Regions from separate parts of the Homo sapiens genome. Here region 2 is linked to region 1. The links come from fine-mapping of genetic effects on gene expression. A gene starts in region 1. The other region holds a variant in brackets. All regions are shown on one strand. Distances are between the middles of the regions. Region 1 holds the start of PPME1 (protein phosphatase methylesterase 1). Region 2 overlaps C2CD3 (C2 domain containing 3 centriole elongation regulator).

What was found.
Region 2: its variant is fine-mapped to the expression of PPME1 in subcutaneous fat (GTEx, PIP above 0.99).

Annotation. Positions count from the first base shown.
Region 1 is chr11:74,168,371-74,173,754 of GRCh38, forward strand. PPME1 (protein phosphatase methylesterase 1) reads left to right here and starts at 2,919. Exons shown (of 14, transcript NM_016147.3): 1 at 2,919-3,152. The coding sequence starts at 3,052. C2CD3 (C2 domain containing 3 centriole elongation regulator) reads right to left here and starts at 2,632. Exons shown (of 33, transcript NM_001286577.2): 1 at 2,368-2,632; 2 at 1-243. The coding sequence starts at 2,422. RefSeq lists enhancers at 1,867-2,790, 2,564-3,013, 2,791-3,713.
Region 2 is chr11:74,102,017-74,107,400 of GRCh38, forward strand. C2CD3 (C2 domain containing 3 centriole elongation regulator) reads right to left here. Exons shown (of 33, transcript NM_001286577.2): 13 at 4,355-4,477; 14 at 1,115-1,609. Among named protein-coding and RNA genes, the nearest start is that of C2CD3, 66 kb to the right of the region's middle. The variant A/T (reference allele first, on the strand shown) is at 2,652.

The DNA.
Region 1 (5,384 bases):
GACCACAACGAATAGCGTAACGTGTAGTTGTTCTCACAGCTTTTGGTTCAGTCTGCAATGCATCCCTGGGACAAAAGAGGGTTCCATCTGATGTTTCTCCCCACCATCTCACTCGGACAAGTACACAAGTGGGAGGCTTTGCAATCTTCCATATGACTCTATTAACAGTAAGTTTTAGAAAACAGCGTAGCTGGCCTTCAACCAGAGGTGGCAGGCTTGTAGATGGAGAAATGTCACTTAAACCTGTAGAGGAATCCAAGAAAACTGAGTCAAAATTTAGACTAAATATAGAAAACATATAATATGCTTTTTGAATGAAAACAAACAGAACACTTTAGTCTTAAGTTCAGCAATTTATCACCACTTAGAAAGAAGGTTTATCCTACCCATTATTCTAATACATGAGAAGTAACTATCAAATCAGACCACCGAATAATCTATCTGGTCATGTAAGCCACTCTGATAACTAATTAGTATTTAAGGTTTGATTTGATTTACTCTAAGTTAAGAACATACCAACAAAGACACACTAATATAAACTTTTCTTTAGTTGAGTTACTATTTGAAAAATACAAATATCAGAAGTAGTTGACATTTTTCTAAGTATGGTTGAAATTTTTCTAAGTACAGTTGTTTTAATTATTGCAACATCTATGGTTTTTAAGATATGTAATCTTTATCTAACTCTCTTTTAAAAAAATCACTAACGATAAAACAGCAACAACTCCCTTCACTCACAAACGATTTAGACTATATCATACAACTCAGCATTTCAATGAAGAACGTCTTAAATTGTAACTTTTCTTTCCTGCCAAGATCACACAGTCAGTGAGGACACAGACTATCTAATCTTCAGATTCTGCCACTATTTTTAACACAGTGCTGGGTTCATATATTTATTGGCTTTAGTATTTATTGGGTTTCATAAAGACATTAAAGTGTAAACAAAGCAATTAATCATGACTTTCTAAAAAATTTTCCTTTAATGACCCTGATTGTCTTTCATTCATAGTACCTTTTCGGGAAAACTTAAAGGAGATTTAAGAAACCATTCCTATATTATTTATACCTTTTTTTTCCTTTGACTTTTCTTTGAGGAGTGGTTATGCCTCAAAGAAGAAAATATATGGAATGTATCAGATCAGGACTAATTATTTGGACTTCTAATGCAAACACCGCCTCTGCCCTCTATAGTGGAGAAAAGACCCACCATAATCCTTATGGATAGTTTCAACATAAAAATTATACACAGTTGTGTATACATTTCTACATATGGAAATGGTATAGCAAAAAGTGTATTCTGTTCTATGCTATGTTATATTATTTCTACTTTGACTTTCCGATTATCAACCAAACATGCTTAACTGTTTTGACACAGGGAGCACTAGTATGCTTCAGTCTCAGATCCTCCTATCTTTCCTGGCAGGAAAGTCAGTATCTCAAAACTGCCTTAGTAATCTTTAAACAGCTTGGATAAGAGTAATTCCCAGATTGTAGCTTCAGTCCTCAACCCAATGGCCTAATGTCCTATCACTGTTCCCAATACTTCTTTTCTCGCTAAACTGCCTACAATGCAAAAAGGCAGGGTCACCCACTGTCCTTTTTCCCTTCGAGGCAGTCTTGTAGAGATTCAATGTCAAGTTTCCTGATCTGCCCTGGGTTCCTAGGTTGACTGTTCTCACTGCAGCTAACATCCCCTACTCGGTGAGCTTGTGTCTCCTTGAGCTGCTAACCTGATGAGGACTCTCTGCTGCACACTCTTTCATGATCTCAGGTCCTTCAGGAGATCGTCATGCCCTTACCCCCACTCCAATCCTATCACACCTGTCATTCCCCACTCTTCCCGGCTCTATACTCTACAATTATTTTTCCCAACTCCTGCTCATAGTCAGCCCTTCATACTTCATTCATTCAACTAACATTTACCGAGTCCTGCTTTGTACTAATCCTTGGTCATTCAGTAATGTATAAAACGTGATTCTTGCCCACAATCACACAACAAATGATATAATCCCTTTGCCAATTTATGTTTCTTCCTGTCCCTGTGGACCTCGAAAGCTACACACACACATACATTTCACTTCGTTATCAAAACCAATCCCATCATTGTTTGTTCTTCTCCTCTACAGTCATCCTACCGGTAACCTTCATCTCATTAATCGCCTGTCTGTGGCCCCTACCCCAGCCCCTAATTCCTTTCTATTCTCTGGAGGGCCAATTGCCCTTCCTTTTAACCTTCTGGTTCCCTGGCTACTTCCTTCTTACGTCCCTTTTCTTGTTTATCCAGCGGGGGTGCGGGTCTCCCTAAAATTCCTTACACCCTGCTCTCCTATTACGCTTTCCTCAATCTTTGATCGCTCAGGTTACCTCTTTTTTTGCGCCCACGGCTGCCCCCAGACCCTTGGCCTTTTCGTTGTTTCATGATGAGCCCGAGCTCTTCTTCACCAGCTCAACTCCGTCTCCAGCACCTAAGCAGTATCCTCCCGCCATCCCTCCCCACGGCGCCTGCGTTCCCCGGCAACCGGCGCCGCTGGGCAGCCTGGGAGGCAGGAAAAAGCGACTCTTCCTCTAACAGTCTCCGGAAAACGGTGCGAAGAGAAGGCGCCAAGACGCCTTCCCTCCAATACACTACAATACCCAGGACGCTTTGCTACAATACCTCTCCGGGGTTGGCTGGGGGGCGCCTCCAGCTGCGCAAGCGCATAGGGATGCGCCCTTTGTGGACTCCATTGCGCAGGGTGCATTGCCCTGAAGAGCGCTCCTCCTTCCGGTGAAAGTCGTCGGGTTCCCAGCCGGGAGTCTGCGGAGTTCTCATACTCTGTTACCCAGCTTCCTTTGTATGAGTGCTGTTGCGCACTTCCGGTGGAAGCGCTGAAGCGAGTGGGTGGAGTTTACGGAGCCGGTGGGCGGTAGGCGGTGCTACGGGTAGCTGGGTGCTGTCCAAAGGCGACAGGGCGTCGTTAGGGGAGCGAGTCGTGACCGGTTGGGCCACACTCAACGTGGGACGAAGCTTCGCCTACTGTTTGACTACGTGCGTGCAGCCTCCCCTCGATGTCGGCCCTCGAAAAGAGCATGCACCTCGGCCGCCTTCCCTCTCGCCCACCTCTACCCGGCAGCGGGGGCAGTCAGAGCGGAGCCAAGATGCGAATGGGGTACGTGACCCATACCCCTTCTCCCTATGGGCCAGGCCCCAGCCGTTGGAGAATGGTATCTCTGGGCGTTCATAGAGGCACGGGAAAGGAGTCTACTGATAGGAGAAAATGTTGGCGGCCTGGAGATATTTAGATGGAGTAGAAGGCAGATTGGGGTACTAGGGGAGGCGCCAAGTCAATAGAAATTGGAGGAAAAATAACGTTGTTGAAGGGAGAGGGGAATGAGGCAAAGGTTGGGGAAGCTGAGAGACTAACATAAGGGATCTGAGAATCACTTCCACAATAAAGGAGGCTTAGAAAAGGGAGTAGAACGGTGACAAAGGTGGAGGAGAATCGGCCAGGGAAGGTGGAGGGAAGTGGGGAATGACTGAGAGAAAAGTTGAGGGGAATTGGGCCAACAACTAAGGAAAGGTTTGGGAGGAGTAGATATTATCAGAGTTCTAATATCTGCACTGTGAGAACTAGATACTAGAAAAGCTGAGGGGGGTAGAAAACACTCGAGACAGGGCTGGAGAAGGAAAGAGGAGAACTAGGAAGCAGACGATTCTAGAGAATTCCCAGAGGTGTAAAGACAGATTCAGCGAATGAGAGGTGAGATTAGGTCTCTTAAGGGAGAATGAGAAAGTTTAGGGAGTAGGCCTAAGGTAAGGTGGAGAACATAGCCACGAAGATTGTTAAGGGTAGTAGGAATGTGCTGAGAAGCTGGACAGGATAAGGGAGAGAGAAGAAGGAGAGGACTGAAGAATTTACAGAGTGAGAAGCTGGACAGGATAAGGGAGAGAGAAGAAGGAGAGAACTGAAGAATTTACAGAGTGACCATAGGCTCTAAAGATTGAGAGATGACTATAAATACGGTTTGGTGAATGGAAGTGCTGCAGTTGTAAGGTCTGGGAAGCTTAGAGGAAGATTTGGGCAATCAGTTTTTGCTGGGCTAGTAGATCTGAGGGAAGCGACGTACTGGCCTAAGACTTTGAATTAGTGAAGCATTGGGAGTTCGAGAAATAGTTTGCTGGAAAGGAAGGAGAGCCATGTAGAAGAGATAGGTTTTGGAATTTTAGATCGTTAAATGGCTTGTGCCAGGTTAGGGGATACTTGGGCCGAGGAGAAAGAATGAGGTGAACATGGGAGAAGTAATTGCTGGAAAGTGGAGAGAATTGAATAGGCATTTGGTTTTGAGGGGATATTTGTAGTTTCAAACAGGATTCTGGGAATTAGTGACTGTAAAGAGAAAAGGAGTAGGAAAGATACTTAGGTATGAGGGCTCCAGAGTATATTTGGGATTCTAGAGATGAATTGGTAGATATTCTTTGAAAAAGGACTACAGAAGAGAAACCTTAGGTTCTGAAGAAGTAATATGTGTAAAAACTTATCAAAAAGGAGGCGAGAGTAGGAGATGCAGTACTGTGACAGTAAGTCCTAGGGATGAAAAGAAAGGAGAATCCTATAAAACAGTGGGGTAAAGGAATGGGAAAAATGGGTGGAAAAACCAGGGAAGGAAACTAAGAATTGAGTGGAGACCTGCTATGATACGCAGTAGAAAAATGAGAAAACTTTAGCAGGAGGAGATAGAGAGATAGACGCACAATAGAGGTAGAAGGCTACATAGAAGGTAAAGTGAAGATTGTTTTGGCTTTGGAAGACAGAAAAGTTGGACTATAACATGAATAAAGAGAATTTGGAAACTGACCCATAACATTATTTGGGAAAACTAACCTGGAGTTTAATATTAATGTAACATTAATTGTTGTTAAATATCTTAGTTGCTGCCTTTCTTAAAATAAATTTGATTTTTCAGTATACCAGCACCCTTCTATACAAATACATAAGAAAATCAGATTTTTAATAATTATACATTCCTTAGATAAGCTTAATTAGAGCTCAGCTTCTCATCTTGGAGAAACAAGTTCTCTGAAGATTGAAGAACTGAATGAAGATACTGAGAGAAAAAAAAAGGAAAATCTGCTGATTAGAAGATTGTATAATTGTTAGTAATTTATCGTTTTTATTTTTTATTACTTTTCATTTTATTTTTTTTTAGAGACAGAGTCTCACTCTGTTGCCCAGGCTAGAGTGCAGTGGCACAATCTCGGCTCACTGCAACTTCCACCTCCCGGGCTCAAGTGATTCTTGTGCCTCAGCCTCCCAAGTAGCTGGGATTACAGGCATGCACCACCACGCCCGGCTAATTTTTGTATTTTTAGTAGAGAGGGGATTTCGCCATGTTGGCCAGGC
Region 2 (5,384 bases), 66 kb before region 1:
AGCTATACCAGTCTGAAGGCTATTTGGAAGGAGGGTGAAGGTTTGAATGGAAGCAGTGGCAGTGCAGTGAAGGTAAAGGGATGTCTTCCAGATAATTAAGTTAGTAGTATCTATTAGACTTGGTAAGTAATTACATAAGAAAGAGTCAAGGACAAATAACAGGTTCTACTTAGGTGCCTGAGTAAATTATAATTTGAATTAGGGCAGACAAAAAGAGGAAGAACAGATTTGGAAGAAGTGATAAATTCAGATTTGAACATGTTTGAATTCATTCTTTCATTTACACATCTTTATTGAATACCCAGTATGTGCCAGGCAATGTGTTAGGTGCCAAGTGTAAACTGCTTCTGAGATATCCAGGTGATAATGACCAGCAGGCAGTTAGATACAGAAATCTCAAACTAAAAGGAAATGTCTGGCTTATATAGAAATGTAGACATGGAAGTTATCTTCATAAAAATGAGTGCTGAAGCTGTGTTGATAGATGTGATGACCATGGGGAGAAGTGGGTTGATTTGGAAGAGTGCCAGCAATAGAGTAAGAGTGGAAGCACCAACAGTTAAAGGAAGAAGTACTGGGGTTACCACCCTTTTCCTAGTTTTCCTTCTGGCCCAATGACTGAAAAAGAACAGCTTTGAGTGAGGAAGAAATTAAGACAGTAAAGTTACAAAAACCAAGAAAGAAAACAATTTAAGCACCACATTACACAGAAAAATCAAGTTAAGATGAATACTGAAGTAGGCAGAAGAATAAATGTGAGGAGAAATATATAAAATAAAGTAATAAAGAAGGAGAGATTGGAGAAAGATGGGGAGGTTTAACTAATCAAAGTCTTAGAGGAAGCAGAAAGGAATAGAATCCCAAAACTCAGGCAAAAGAAACAGTGAGAAACCATGTGAACTCAGACAGAATAGAAATAAAGACAAACAGTTTTAAAATGTTGACAATGCCTTTCCCTCTTCCCATCCAATAGTGGGACTGAATCTGTACACCAGATAATTACGAAGGTTCCTTCTAGTCTGAACATTCTAGATTTAAGACGAAATAATAATTTGGGAGGCATTTGTCTCTCACCCCTATATTCCTCTAATGGATATGGAATGTACAAAGTTACCTGAGAAAAGTTAAAGACCGGTTGTGTTGTGCCCCATGCGATGACAGATCTGGTGACTTCCTCTGTGCTGAAGAGTTTACAATTTAAATAAACATTGCATGGTGATTGTTTCTCAGATTCTCCACTAATAAAATCTTTCCCATCTGGCACCATCAACAGCACATGCAACAGCAAAGCACTCTCTTTTGTTGTCCCATTTGTCTGATTGACTAAATTATGGGAGGCTGGCGTAGCTACGAAGGTTGAAGGATGTGGTGCTACAGGGCTTGGTGACTTTCGGTTGGGGAGCACCAAGTTCTGTGCTTTCTTTGCAGTTTCCTCATGAATTTGGTTTAAGTTTTGTGGATTTTTGGTACAGGTCATATCTTGGTTAAGTTCTGGTAGTGCCTTATTTGGACTTGTAGGAGCACAAAGTGGGGTATAATGGGTGTTGCCACTTAACTTAGTATTGATACCAGTGAAATCTTTGTTATCTGTAATAAGCTCCATGGTTACCTGTAAAACACAAAAGGAGAAGAGTCAATAAGAATGTCCTTTAGAATTGGAATTAGAATTTTGAGGCTGGAAACAACATCAGATTATTAGGAAATGAATTAACTCATCCTCAAACACTCTAATAGTAAGAATATTAACAGAATGCATATACATTAACTTGCTAGACTAAGAAAAACTAGACAGATGATTTATCAATAACAAAAGATGAGCCTGGAAGATCAAGTTATGCCAGAATATAAGATAGTTCCCAGAAAAGAATGGAGCCATGTTTAAAGGACCCAGAATCCAGCTGAAGAGGCTCCCACTGGCTAAATCTAGGACAACTTAAGCATCAGAATGAATAACAGTAATGGATTATAAACTATTGAATAAGAATCCATGAATCCATCCTGATATAAAATAAATATGAGAGAAGAAACAGCTTCTCTATATAGAATGCCAATTAATAAATGCAAAAGAGACGGTAGAGTTAGAAATCACCATTTGACAATCATCACAGTAATAAGTGATTCAGGTTAACCCCAGTGGAGGAACATTCTTTAAAATAACTGGCATTACTTAAAAATATCAGCATATTGAAAAATAAAGAAAGGCTGCAGAACTGTTCCTGACTAAAGGAGATTAGGAAGATCTGACAAAATGCAATAGATAATCCTGGACTAGAAAAAAATATTTGCTATAAAGGCACTGGTATAATTGGTGAAATCTCAGTATAGCCTGCAGATATAGTATCAATGCTATGCTGACTTTTGTAACTCTAGAGTATTATGCATGATGATGTCCTTGTTCTAAGGAAATACATAAAATATAAACTAAAGAATTTAGGGGGAAAGAGGCATGATGTACAACTTACTCTCAAATAGTTCACAAAAAAATGTGTATGTACATGTATGGGGGGAGGAGATAAAGGGACAGAGAGAGAGAGGCAGAGAAGAGGCAGACAGACAATTATAAAGAAAATGTGACAAATAGTAAGAATTGGGGAGTCTCAGTAAAGGGTATAAAAAAGTCTAAATAATTAAAAAGTAAAAAAGAAAAGGGA[A/T]GCAGGATAAATGATGAATTTAAAGAACAGAAGTGGTCACTAACTGTTAGGAGACTCAATTACTAGGGGTAAAAGGTTCTTGCTGTTTCTTCGATCTGAAATCCTAAGTGTTACATAGCAAGGTTCTTTTACTCTGTTGAATATAGACAGCAATCTATCCAGAATAGTATTTCTCTCAAAAGAGCCAGAACAGAAAAAATTTCTAGTTGATCAATCCTATTTATAACCCCTTTCTGATTTTAAACTTTGTAGTTCAGAATGAACCAGGCAGACAAAAACTATAACTTGGATAGCAAGAGTAGGTGATGTTAATTTTTTGCAATAATAATTGTGTAAGTCTTTAAAGCAAAGTGGTATTTACTAAGACCAAGAAGAGAGACAAGGCTTTCAAGAAGAAAAGGCAGTATGATAATCAATAACAAAAACACAGAGGCATGAACCAGCATGATACCTTACTGACTCTTTACGTAGAGTGACATAGTTATTGGTAGAGAAGCTGTAAGAGAGAAGGTTGAAATGGTAGGCCAGGGTCATATATTAAGCCTTGTACTTTATCCTTTGGGTGATTGGGAGCCATCAGGATGTTTTAGGCATGGCTGTGATGATTTTTTTTTTTCTTTTGAGACAGAGTCTTGCTCTGTCGCCCAGGCTGGAGTGCAATGGTGCAACCTTGGCTCATTGCAACCTCTGCCTCCTGGGTTCAAACGATTTTTGTGTCTCAGCCTCCCGAGTAGCTGGGATTACAGGCGTGTGCCACCACTCCTGGCTAATTTTTGTATTTTTAGTAGACATGTGGTTTAGCCATGTTGCCCAGGCTGGTCTAGAACTCCTGAGCTCCGGCAATCTGCCCGCCTTGGCTTCCCAAAGTGCTGGGATTACAGGCTTGAGCCACTGCACCCGGCTGATTTTTAAAACTCACCAGGACAAAGCTATACTGAAGCCACACGCTCAGATTCTGTCATCTAAGAAATCCTAACTCACCTGAATACAAGGAAATAACCCTCTCTCCAATGAATTATATACCAGAATTCATTCTACCAGGCACACTTAGTTACTGCTCTCCTTCTTTATTTCAATTACTCTAGTCTAAGCCACCATCAATCATCTCTTTTCTGGACTAATGCCACAGCCCATTTCCCTCTTTCCTCTTGCCGTCTATTCTCCACACAGTAATCTTGTAAAATGGAAATCAGATGATGTCAGTCCCATGCTTCAACATTCTTTCCTTGGATCTTAGGCTAAAATCTAAACTCTTTACCTTTACCTACAAAGCTCTGATGATATGGCTTCTACCTGACTGTTCAACCCTACTTTCTACCACTCTCTCTCTTGCTCACTATCCTCTGGCAACTTTCTATCCCTTGATGACTCCAAGCCCACTCCTGCTTTAGGGCTGTTGCACCTGTTATTCTCTCTGGAATGGTCTCTGTGTTTTTTACTTACTCCTCTTATTCTTCAAATCTCACCTTCTATTTCACCTCCATAGAAAGATCCTCCCTGATCACCATCTCCTACTTTCTCACAGGTACTCACTATCACATCATACCATTTATTTCCTTCATAGTACTTCCACTGCTCTATTTCAAGAGATGCTACACAAGATCAAAGACCTTGCTTTTCTTGTTCACTGCTATATCCTCAGTGCCAGCCAATAATGCATACTCAGCAAATACTTCTGACTTCCTGAATGTATATCTACATACCTTGAGGGGGCCAAATGGAGACTGACCATTTTCTTGTTGCACTGGAAGCTGATCACTGAAAGAAAGCAGCTCTGATTGAATGACAGCTCGCAAAGAAAGTGACACAGATCCAATGACTTCTGGCTGAGAAAGAAGGAAAGAGAACATTTAGATTAATTAAAGAGAAGCCACAGGTGATCTTAATTAAAGTGACAACATATGATGGCTTATAAAGGAAACCATTCAGGAAGAAAAAAGCTTAATTATCTAAGACAACTCTGAGATCCCACTTTGTCATATTTTGGTCTCTCTTCTGGCTTTTGCTACTTCCCTCTATAAGATTACAGAGGGTTTTATAAGCCACAAAGTGGTGGGAAGATTATCTTTTTCTATCACTAAGAGTTAATTCTTACTCAAAATGTTCAACTTCACTATTAAAAATAAAAAATAAAATTTAGATGTCACAAATTTTTGCTATTAAAACTAGGGAAATTGTAAAATTTAATATATCTAATGCTATCAAGGCTATGGAGAAACAAGAGGCTGTCATATGCGTAAAGCTGGAAATATAAACTGGCAATATGCTTTTGGATGGCAAATTTGGTAACAGATATTAAAAGCTTTAAATATTTATGCTCTTTGGCCCAGTAATTCCATTTCTGGGAATTTGTACTAAAGAAATAATAAATAGGCTGGGCGCGGTGGCCCATGCCTGTAATCCCAGCACTTTGGGAGGCTGAGGCAGGCAGATCACCTCAGGTCAGGAGTTCAAGACCAGCCTGGCCAACATGGTGAAACCCCCGTCTCTACTAAAAATACAAAAAAATTAGCTGGGCATGGTGGCGGGTGCCTGTAATCCCAGCTACTCAGGAGGCTGAGGCAGGAGAATCGCTCGAACCCAGGAGGCTGAGGTTGCAGTAAGCTGAGACCATGCCATTGCACTCCAGCCTGGGCAACAAGAATGAAACTGTGTCACACACACACACACACACACACACACACAGAAATAAGAAACAATGCATAAAAAGCTTATACACAAATATGTATATGT